Regions from separate parts of the Homo sapiens genome. Here region 1 is linked to region 2. The links come from fine-mapping of genetic effects on gene expression. Tissue or cell type: whole blood. Region 2 holds a variant in brackets; the other region holds the start of a gene. All regions are shown on one strand. Distances are from middle to middle.

The links. PIP is the estimated chance that this variant, and not a neighbour inherited with it, causes the effect.
Region 1: FAM185A starts here. The variant in region 2 is the best candidate, but not a certain one, in a credible set for the expression of FAM185A in whole blood (TOPMed, PIP 0.56).

The regions. Positions count from the first base shown.
Region 1 is chr7:102,746,634-102,751,633 of GRCh38, reverse strand. It overlaps FAM185A (family with sequence similarity 185 member A), which reads right to left and starts at 2,635. Exons shown (of 8, transcript NM_001145268.2): 1 at 1,976-2,635. The coding sequence starts at 2,426. It also overlaps the pseudogene RASA4DP. RefSeq lists silencers at 2,646-2,815, 2,856-2,945 and an enhancer at 2,618-2,912.
Region 2 is chr7:102,691,704-102,697,059 of GRCh38, reverse strand. It overlaps the pseudogene RASA4DP. Among named protein-coding and RNA genes, the nearest start is that of POLR2J2-UPK3BL1, 23 kb to the right of the region's middle. The variant A/G (reference allele first, on the strand shown) is at 3,281.

The DNA of each region.
Region 1 (5,000 bases), 55 kb before region 2:
TTTAACCTAGAAACCCAACTCCTCAGTTATGTCCGTAATATTGCTGAATCCTGGAAAGTGCATACTGTAAAGGTAAGGGGTCTTCTACCACAGCAACGGGACCAAAAACAATAGCCTTTCTGCCCGTTTTTAGAAACAGAGCAGTTATTTCTACTGGCCTAAATCACCTAAAGAGAACTAACATAGATGGGAAGTAAAGGAGACTACGATTCTGTTAAGTACTCCTGTGAAAGACTGTAGAAGCCTCTTCCCCAGTATATATGATCATGACTTAGGTTTTCAAATCCTATGTCTAACCTTTCATACTTAAAAAATGAAAATATTACCATGCAACTATATCACAGGTATTTGAAGTAATTTTTTAAAAATGGGAACAACTTTGAAAAAGCTAATATATACTATTAAAACTACAAGATTAGGCCATGAGCAGTGGCTCATGCCTGTAATACCAGCACTTTGGGAGGCCGAGGAAGGAGGATTGCTTGAAGCCCAGGAGTTCAAGACCAGCCTGGACAATGTAGCAAAACTCCATTTCTACAAAAAAACAAAAACATTAGCCGGGCATGGTAGCATGCACCTGTAGTCCCAGCTACTCAGGAGGTGGAGGCGAGAAGATTGCTTAAAACCGTGAAGTCAAGACTGCAGTGGGCCATGATTGTGCACCTGTACTCCAGCCTGCGTGGCAGAGTGAGTGAGATGCAGTCTCAAAAAAAACCAAAACAAACAAACAAAAAACCCCACAAGATTGTGGACAAATGGCAGTGGTATATGAAGCAAGTTTGGAAAATAAGGAATTACAAATGCCATCCTTGGCTGTCTATTTAAGATGTAACTGCAGGCATCTCTGTATACAAATTTTAAAAATTAAAAACGCTGATATTTAATTTGGAATTAACATAAATATTGATGATTTCTCTTAAAGTAGGCAAGACCCGCCCCCCCACTTGATTCCTGAAACCACAAATAGTACCAAATCCTATATATTCTATGTTTTTTCCTGTATACATATCAATGATCAAGTTTAATTTATAAACTAGGCATAGTAAGAGATGAACAATAATAACAAATACAGCAATTATAACAATATACTGTAATAAAAGTTATATTACTGTGATCTGTCAAAATATCTTAATATTTTCCTACAACAGCTGAGGCAGGTAACAAACTGAGACAGCCAAACGGTGGATAAGGGAGGACTACGGCATCTACTATTTGGGCAACTCTAAGCATTATAAAAGATGATCTTAAAAATGCTAAATGCTATTATTATTACTATCATCATCATCATCAATATCTTCCATCAGTCCCAGGAAGAATGACAGTCTGGGGAGCCCTTCCTAGAAAAGTGTGTGTACACAGTGGCTTGCCATTTAGGAAAAGCTAAGAAAGGTATCTTGCAGGCATTATTATTGAAGCTTCCTAGGCAGGCTTACCATGTGTTTTTCTTCAAAGCTTGCTACTCATGGAAAACTTAGGCCAAAAAGAATGGAAATATAACAGTAAGAAGCTGGGCGCCCGTCTAAAACCAAATACTCAAACCAGGTGATACCCGGAACATCCTATTGACAGGGCTGTTTTGGGACAGACCCCCAGGCTGTGAGCAAGATGAAATGTAGATGGACTGCCATACCATTGAATGAATTGTCAAGAAACTTCAACCTTGAAAAATAAGCCAGTTTGCTAATGACAACGGGATAAAGGAGAACACAAGCGGCTCCAGAAATAGAATTTGACCTGGATTATACCAAATCATGTTTCCATTCGATGTATAAAATTTCTATAATTGGGAACCTAATTTTTAAATACTACTCGGACACTCAAGAACAGAACAGAGGAAAAGGTGCATTTCCGAAGGGGCCAACTGTAAATTAGGTTTAGAGAGCCAGGACCAATTAAAAGTGCACGTCGACCACATTTATTAAGTTCACTGTGCGTTCCCTGGGACCCAAACCCGTTTTCACTTCACTTCACTTGCCAAACTTCAGGGGCGCGTTCACCTCCACGGACGCCTGGGGGTGGATAGTATCAGACACAATGGCCATCTCCTCCAGATCCTCGTCGTACTTCACCTGCAGGCCGTCCAGGCCCCGCACGCCGCCCTCCACGCCGCACACCGCGACCAGCACGCGGTCGCCATCCGGGTAGGTGAGGGGGTCCAGGGGCCTCACGGCCAGGTGGCACGGGAGCCGCGCCCGCAGCCGACCAAACGGGCTCACCTGCAGTGTCCACTCCTTCAGAGTTCGGCGCCCCGGGCCAGGCGGAGGGACCTCAGTCTCCGATCCGGGCCAGCGCTCGCTCCCACCTGAGCTGTACGGCCTGGCTTGGCAAGCCCAGCAAGCCCAGCGCCCAGCGCCAGCCCACAGTCGGACCTGACGGAGACAGAGACGGAAGCAGCCAAGCTCCCAACCTGAGCAGGGGGCAAGCATGGCGCGCCTCTCTCGCCAGTCCTCAGAACACTTCAGCCACAGGGAGGGTCACTTGCCACGGCCAATCGACTTGGCCACTGTGCCGCCTCAAGTCAAATAGGAGACGTAAGTCAGGGTTTGCTGAAACAAGAGCGAGCCGGTTGGCTTGACTAGGCGTTCTAAACATCAGCCGCGCAATCCCCAGGGGCAAGTTGGGATTTGAAAGCTCTAAACTCTGACCTGGACCCCTTGCCTAAGTCCACCCCCTTTCGCTAAGGCCGACGGGATAGGTAGTTCTAAGTCGCAGAGCTCTGCCTCTTAGAAACCACATTTCCCAGGAGGCAATGCGCAGGGGAGCACGGGTAAGAGGGTAGGTGTTAGAATCGCTGGAAAGGCGGGCGCCCTTTGTCTCAAGACCATTGGCTATTGGAGGGGCGGTACATGGGAGTCCACTGGCCAATGGGAAGCACGGAAGGGGCAACGCGGGTAAAGCTGCGTGGTCACCTTGGATACCAAGCACGCGACTTCTTGGTTGGAGAGGGTGGAGCTTTGGAGTGAGACCCAGGACGCCAAATCCCAAAGAGAAAAATAGGAGCCTAAATAAGGATCAGGACCAAGGGAAGGGGTAAGAAACTGCGCTTTTTAAGATGACAACTAGGTGCAAACTAGGAGTAACCTCTGTGGATGTCAACATCCAAGCTTCACTAACTTAGTGAGGGCATCTCCAGGGCATGGAGAATGCCTTGGTAAGAAAGTAAAGAGCAAGATTGGTGCTTTTTGAGGGAATTGCCTCTTTGGAAGTGTATTCCCTCCTATATTCCAAATATAGGAATAGAGTACTTGCTCCGTCCTGACCCTAAGTGACCTTACTTTGGGTTTTAATTTGCTCACTTTAAAAATGTAGATAATAATACCTTCCTTGCCTTGCCTCAAAGGGTTTTTGTAAGGATCAAGTAAGAAAATGGATGGGACCGTGGTGCACAGTCTACAAAATTACCGTGTAAAGAACTGTATTTTTATTTCAACGTACTTAACATTGATTCTGAGTTACCAAGAAAATTATGAGAGATCAGAACTTGTTTTGAGAATAGCATTGATCTCTTTGACTACAAATGATCCTCAGTTTTAGAGTGAAAAAAAAAAAAAAGACACAAAAAAGAGAGTCACCATGGTGCGGTGGAAAGAGCAGGGACAAGGGTCAGGTTATTTTCCTGGCTCTGCCACTGCTTCATCTGTGTCACCTAGACCTGTTTCTTTAGTTTTAAAATGAAGAAAGATGGTTCTAAATGACCCTATAAGGGGTGTGTGTGTGTGTGTGTGTGTGTGTGTGTGTGTGTTTACCTTTTATAATTCTATAGGCAGTAAAATAATGGGAACAGAAAGATTTATTTTCTTCTTTTTTCTTTTTTTCTTCTTTCCTGCCTGGTTTCTCTCTCCCCCTCTGTGCCCCTACTTCCTCCTAAAATGTATTCCCTAAATTATTTAGCCAAGACACCTGCAAACACTAACATTTCATAAAATGCAAGTGCCTTAAAAAATAGAAGCCCTTACCCAAGTACAATGACCAGAATTCTTGGGGCTATCGTGATAGATAGACTGGGCTAAAGTTCTCATGGGTACAAGTCTCAGGTTCTCTGCTAGCCACTACCTTTTTAAAATTTTTAAAAATTCAGTGTTCTCTTAAGTTATCATTGCCTCTTTTCTGTCCTTCTAGTCCTTCCTCCCTCCTTATTCTTTTGGTGAAGACTCACTCATTATAGGTGCTAGCTCAGGTTCAGCAAGGGCCCACTGCAATAGTTCTTTTCTTGTCTTTGTGTTTCATTGGTTATAATTATTCAGAATAATCTTCAAACTATTTTTTATGAAAATTGAGAGGTGTAACTTTGAAAAGAAATTTGAAAAAGGCACTGGTTTAAGGAAGTTGAGAAGGTACTCAAATTTTCTGTAGAAACACTAGACATTTTTAGATTAAATATTAATTCTAATAGTTAATTCTGTGTCTATGGTAATTTTTCCTTTTCTGAGACAAACTAAGTTAATGGAATTGGCAACTGAACTATAATTTTCTATGTTGCATGATCATTATTTTACTTTTTCAAATAAAAACCAAATAGAATTGACTGAAAATTTACTTTGCTGATCATACAATGTTGAAAATGGAGAAAATTATTAATATTAAGATTGGCATAAAATATTTAAAGTTATAGACACTTAAAAACAGTATAATGAGTATCAAATCTGTCCACATATCAACAGTGATTAATAAAAGTTGTATCTTCCATCCATATGACATTATAATTGTCAAACCATGTTCACATGCGTCATCTCAATGTATCCTCACTAATTAGGAGGGAAATTATTCTCCTCACACTATAGATGAGGATTCAGATTCAGAAACATTAAGATTAAGCAATTAGAAGGTCTGGCCCTTTTATCACTCTACCAAAACGTCCATTTTCCTGACACCTTTGAAGAAAAAATGAAATTATTCACCTCATAAGTAGAAAATTATATACAACTTTTTTCTCCTTATTTAGAGTTTGTTTCTAAGATATTTTCACATCTTAGTTTTAAAAAGCTATTTCCGTGGTCATG
Region 2 (5,356 bases):
CTATTGGATATTTAATCCTGTCCCATTTTCTTTATATTGTTAATTTTTATTTAAGGTATAACATATAGAGTAAACCTCACAAATATTAAGTGTACAGATCAGGTTTTTTATGTATGCTTATAACCAACATGTCCATAACTGAATTTGTCATTCTTCTCCCAATCATCTGTATTCTCTTTGTCAGTTTGAGAGTTAAATATCTCCTTTAAATATGTATCTCATTGATTTATCTCTTCTCCCACCATATTCTCAGTCTGATCAGGATCTACTTCCAGGAACCTGAGGTCTCCCTTGAGACCTTCCCAGTCATTGCTCCCACCCAAGATAACCACTCTACTGGCTTATCATATATTAGTTTGTCTCTTCTTGAACATCATTTAAATGGAGTCATACAGTATGTTTTTCTTTGTGTCTGGCTGCTTTTGCTCACTTTTATAGTTGTGAGGTTCATTAATAGCATTATGCGTGGTGGTAGTTCCATTTCTTTTTTTATTGCTTCTTAGTATCCTGATGATACAGGACAGTCAAGCCCCCAAATTGAGGCTTGCCCTTGAGAGGGTTGTGATGTTAAACAGCAACTTTTATTGAAGTGGCAGTGAACTGCAGCAGCAGAGGTTCTGATCCTTGTGGAGCAGGGATACCCCATAGGCAGTGTACCTGGAATAGGAGCTCAGAGGCAGTTCTGCACTCAAATTTATATCCACTTTTAATTAGATGCAAATTAAGGACTGGTTTATGCAGAAATTTCTAGAATGAGGTTGGTAACTTGCAGGTTGTCGGGTTGATGCCATGGAAAGGGGCAGTAACTTCCTGATGTTACCATGGCAACAGTAAACTAACATGGCACACTGGTGTCTAATGGGGGAGGTGCTTCTGCCTCAGACCTCTTTTAGCTAGTCCTCAATTTGGTGTGATGTCCAAGCCCCACCTCCAAAGTCGAGTTCTGCCTCCTACCTCACTACTGTGTAAATATACCATAATTTGTTGATCCATTCTATTTTGTTTATAAAAATGGATTATTTCCTGTTTTGAAGATAATGAATAAAGTTCTGTGATCATTCTTATGCATGCCTTGTACTTAAGAATGAACTTATCTTGGGTATATACACAGGAGTGGGGTTAATCTGTCATAGTCTAGGTTTATATTCAGCTTTAGTAAAGACCTTCAATCAGTTTTCCAAAGAGGTTGAACCAGCATACACTCCAATGGGTATTATGTTAGATGCTGTCACATGTCCAGGGTTAATACAAGTGATAGCTTTCACGGTATTCCCTAGTTAGGATTTCTACTTCTATCTGTATGTGCTTATGTAAAACAGCACTGATTTATAAATGTGGCCTCACTTGTCAAGGGTCAGTGTGTCAGATGCTGAACTTTTCCACGACTTGGAGGCCGTAAAATCATTTTTGTCTTAATGCTGTGAGCCAAAATCAAAACATTAAATTATTTCGCCTAAGCGAAATAATTGGCTCTTTGCTTTTTACCAAGAGCCAGGCATCTCCTCCCTTCTCTTTATTTCCTGAAAATAATTATTGTTCCAATCATTGTTAAGTAAGTCTTTGACCTGACTTAGCCAAGGGGTGGAAAAAAGGAGGCATAGGAGCATTGCATTTGGGAGGCATAAAAGGGAGAACAAACATTGTAGGGAAACACCGAGGAAGTAAAACTACGAATCAAAATAGAATATGAAACTAAAAGTAGAGTGTGGATGTGTACCAATCATCATGGGCAATGATGAAGATGGATTAAGTTTGTTAATATATGACCTTTTCACGAAAACAGGTTATATATAAAACTATGAGTGGTTGTACTTCTTACAAAATATGTAATAGCAGCATTTGTGTCCAAGTTTCAGTTGCATGTCAGATTTGGTGAGTATTAAGATGTCAAGAACCTTGTGAACAATAATTTTGGACATTAAGTCTTAATCTATTTAAAAGATAAAAGATACAGCATTCACTATGTGCCAGGCACTGTGCTAGATGTTTATAATTATTATTACTAAAGCTACTGAAATTCATCCCTTCAACTCCTCCTTGGTTTTGAGCACCTCCTGTGTGCTGGATTATGCTAGATACCATGAGAATTTATGGACATAAAGCATAAAAAGGTTCCTATTCTTTAGAAGCATTATTTGTGAACAAGAAGATTGAAATATTAAATGTCAACAAAAGGCATATGATTTTGGACCCAGAGGATACAAGCAGTGTTATCAGAAGGGAAAGGGAGGCTTGACTGCTGTGGGATGAGACGGTCTAGAAAGGCTTTTAAGGCAGTAAGACATGAAAGGGGATATTGCATCCATATACACAGGGTCCACTATGAATCTGGTTTCTTTGCCCATACCCATGTATGCACATACTTGGAATATCTTCATGTAGATGACCCCAAAGTACCTCAAACTAAACATACTCACAACTAAATCCATTATCCTTCTCCGGAACCGAACTCTGCTCCTGGGTTCTGTCAGTTGGTTCTCTCTTGTTAATATCTCTTGAATTTGTGTTTTCCATTCCTACCATCTCACCAGTTAGAATGCCGTTTCAGTGATGAAGATGTGAAGAGAGACTGCACAGTGGCATTGGCAATGAGGAAAAAAGGAGTGAATACATTTAGGAGAGATGTTAAGGAAGTATAAAATTCTATAGACTTAGTGTCTGAGTGGATGGAGTGGGTGAGGAAAAGATTCTAAATTGATGCTTGGCATTCTGATTTAGGAAATCAGCCAAATTATGGCACCATACATGAGAGTTCAGAAGAAGCAACAGGTCTGAAGGGAATGTCCAGTATGTGGATCTGAGCCTATGGGGGAAGTCTCTGGCCAGAGGTGTAGTAGACACGGTAGGTTGTTGATATAGTAATCAGAATGCTTTCTGAAAGAATTGCAACTTGATACCTATGTATATTTAACAACACGGTCTACCACTGTGTATTTAAAAAAAGATGCTGCCATTGTTTACCTAATTTCATACTTGTAAAATTATCTTTTTTTATGAGGATATTCACATATTCAAAAGATGCTTTATTTTCTATATATTTTGTTCTCTTAAGGCTGGTACCAGATAAATAAATGTTGGTTTTTTAAATAAATTTCTTTGATGTAAAGTCTGTCTCTGTTGCCCAGACTGAAGTGCAGTGACACAATCTCAGCTCACTGCAACTTCTACCTTCTGGGCTCAAGCAATCCTCCCACCTCAGCCCCTGGAGTAGCTGGGACCACAGACACATAACACCAGGCCTGGCTGATTTTTGTATTTTATGTAGAGATAGAGTTTCACC[A/G]TGTTGTCCAGGCTGGTCTCAAACTCCCGGGCTCAAGTGATCTACCCACCTCGGCCTCTCAAAATGCTGGGATTACAGGTGTAAACCCCTGCACCTGGCCTAAAATTAAACTAAAGTTTTAATTACTGAAAGTATCGGTGATTTGCTGACGCTACTAAAGCTTCATTTATTTTGTAGGTTGGACCTTCTATAGAGTTACTAATGAGCTTCTTGAGATAATCCCTAATGACATTTCAATTTTTTTCGAGGAATTAAATATTTTCTATTTTTTTATACCTTAAGTAACTGGTTATAAAGGGGAAAAGATAAGAACCCCACCCTCAAGGAGCTTACGAAGTAGTTTCAAGTATGTAAACTTACTTTTCAGAATGATTCTGTAATAGGAGGTTTGAGATATTGCTATTTCCATCTTAAAGATTCTGGAAGATTGAGACTCGCCCTGGGTTACACATCGGGGTGGAATTTGGAACCCAATCTTCCGTTTCCTGCTTCAGCGCGCATTTCACTTGACATTCACACATTTAAACACTGCTATTTTAGGTTTTACAATTTGACTTTTAAAGTAGACTGTGTATTAAAACAAAGATAACTATGTACACTCTGTTTAAATATTTCTAGTATGTTTCCCCATCCTCTCCTTAGTTATCACCCCTCACTAACAGCTGTACTTATAGGCTGTGCTTTAAAAAATGACCAATTTTCTTTTATAAACCTTCCTGCAAATCTTGCTATTATTGACATGTTTTCGCTTTTCCTTCAGACATCTAGGCACCCTTGCAAGAATAATAATTTTTCAAGATTTTCCTTGGCTGTCAAGAATCTTCAAAGAGACGGATAGTTTATTGAACAGTACAGATAGGTTCTATTGTTCCCATATTTTTGTTATTATTGTTTTTACTCTGACAGTGGGGTGGAAATTTAAAAACTTTTCCAGTATGGAAGAAGACCTTGTAATGCACTTAAATATTTGAGATATCAACATAACTAAATCCATTTACAAAGATTGAATATTGATGCTAAGATTATAAGAATACAGGCCATATTCCACTTTGCAAAGTAGATTAATACCCCTCAATTCAGTTAAATGGTACACTGCAGAAGAGGTCAGGGTAAGAGGAAAGAAGGCACTGTGTTAGGATGTCCTCCTCTTGGCATCTTTAAAATGACAAACATGGAGATTGATTTTGGCCAGGAATCTGGGGTATTGTCAGAACAACTCTATTTGAACAAGCTGTGCTTAGTGGTAAGAGGGAGTCAGAAGGATGTTGAAAAGGGGACAGAGAAGAAGAAAGATAAAGAAAAATTGGTCCTTTACCTCCTCACATACAATCTGTGAGATTATCTTCCTTAACTCATTCTGAAAAATCTTTCCTGAGCATCTACAATATGCCAAACCCAAGGCTAGGAATGGGAGGAAAACGCAGCAGTGGCCCTACCCTCAGTGGCCCATCTGTCCCTCTGTTTGTGTGGTTTATTTGCCTCTCTTCTCCTTTATCCTTTTCTAGTTCTTTACTGACATAATGAGATCCTAGTTTGTATGTGTATGTGCATGTGTTTAATTACATAGTTAATACATTTTAATCACCTCTTTATTTTTCATTGATTGTTAACTACTGTTGTAGCAACTTGATTAAATATTAAAAATAATAATCTAAACTTTGATACTGGCTTTCTAAATAGTCGCTGAACGGATGTTGCTCTTCAAAATAAGTACTAGGAGAAATAATAGTATTTTCTCCTTTGAGAGAAGGTTGGCTTTGGAAAGCTCGTGGCTCTTAGGTGAATGTGCATCTTGTAAAACAGTCTCTTTAGTAATGCAATCACTATTTTAATACATTGGGGACTAAAGATGGAAGCTTAAGGATTAAAATAAAATACCTTTTTCAACAAAAAATGTATTAATATATAGGTAGAGAGAGGGTACTGTTGTCTGTTGGGTAGATTCCTTGGCAAATAAACAGAAGGGAGTAGGATTGGGAATTTGTCCATCTGGTAACCAGACTTACAGGTAAATCAGTAAAATGAGTTAGCAGGAGTCAACCCAGTAAAGTTAGCTAAGACAAGACAATTACTAAA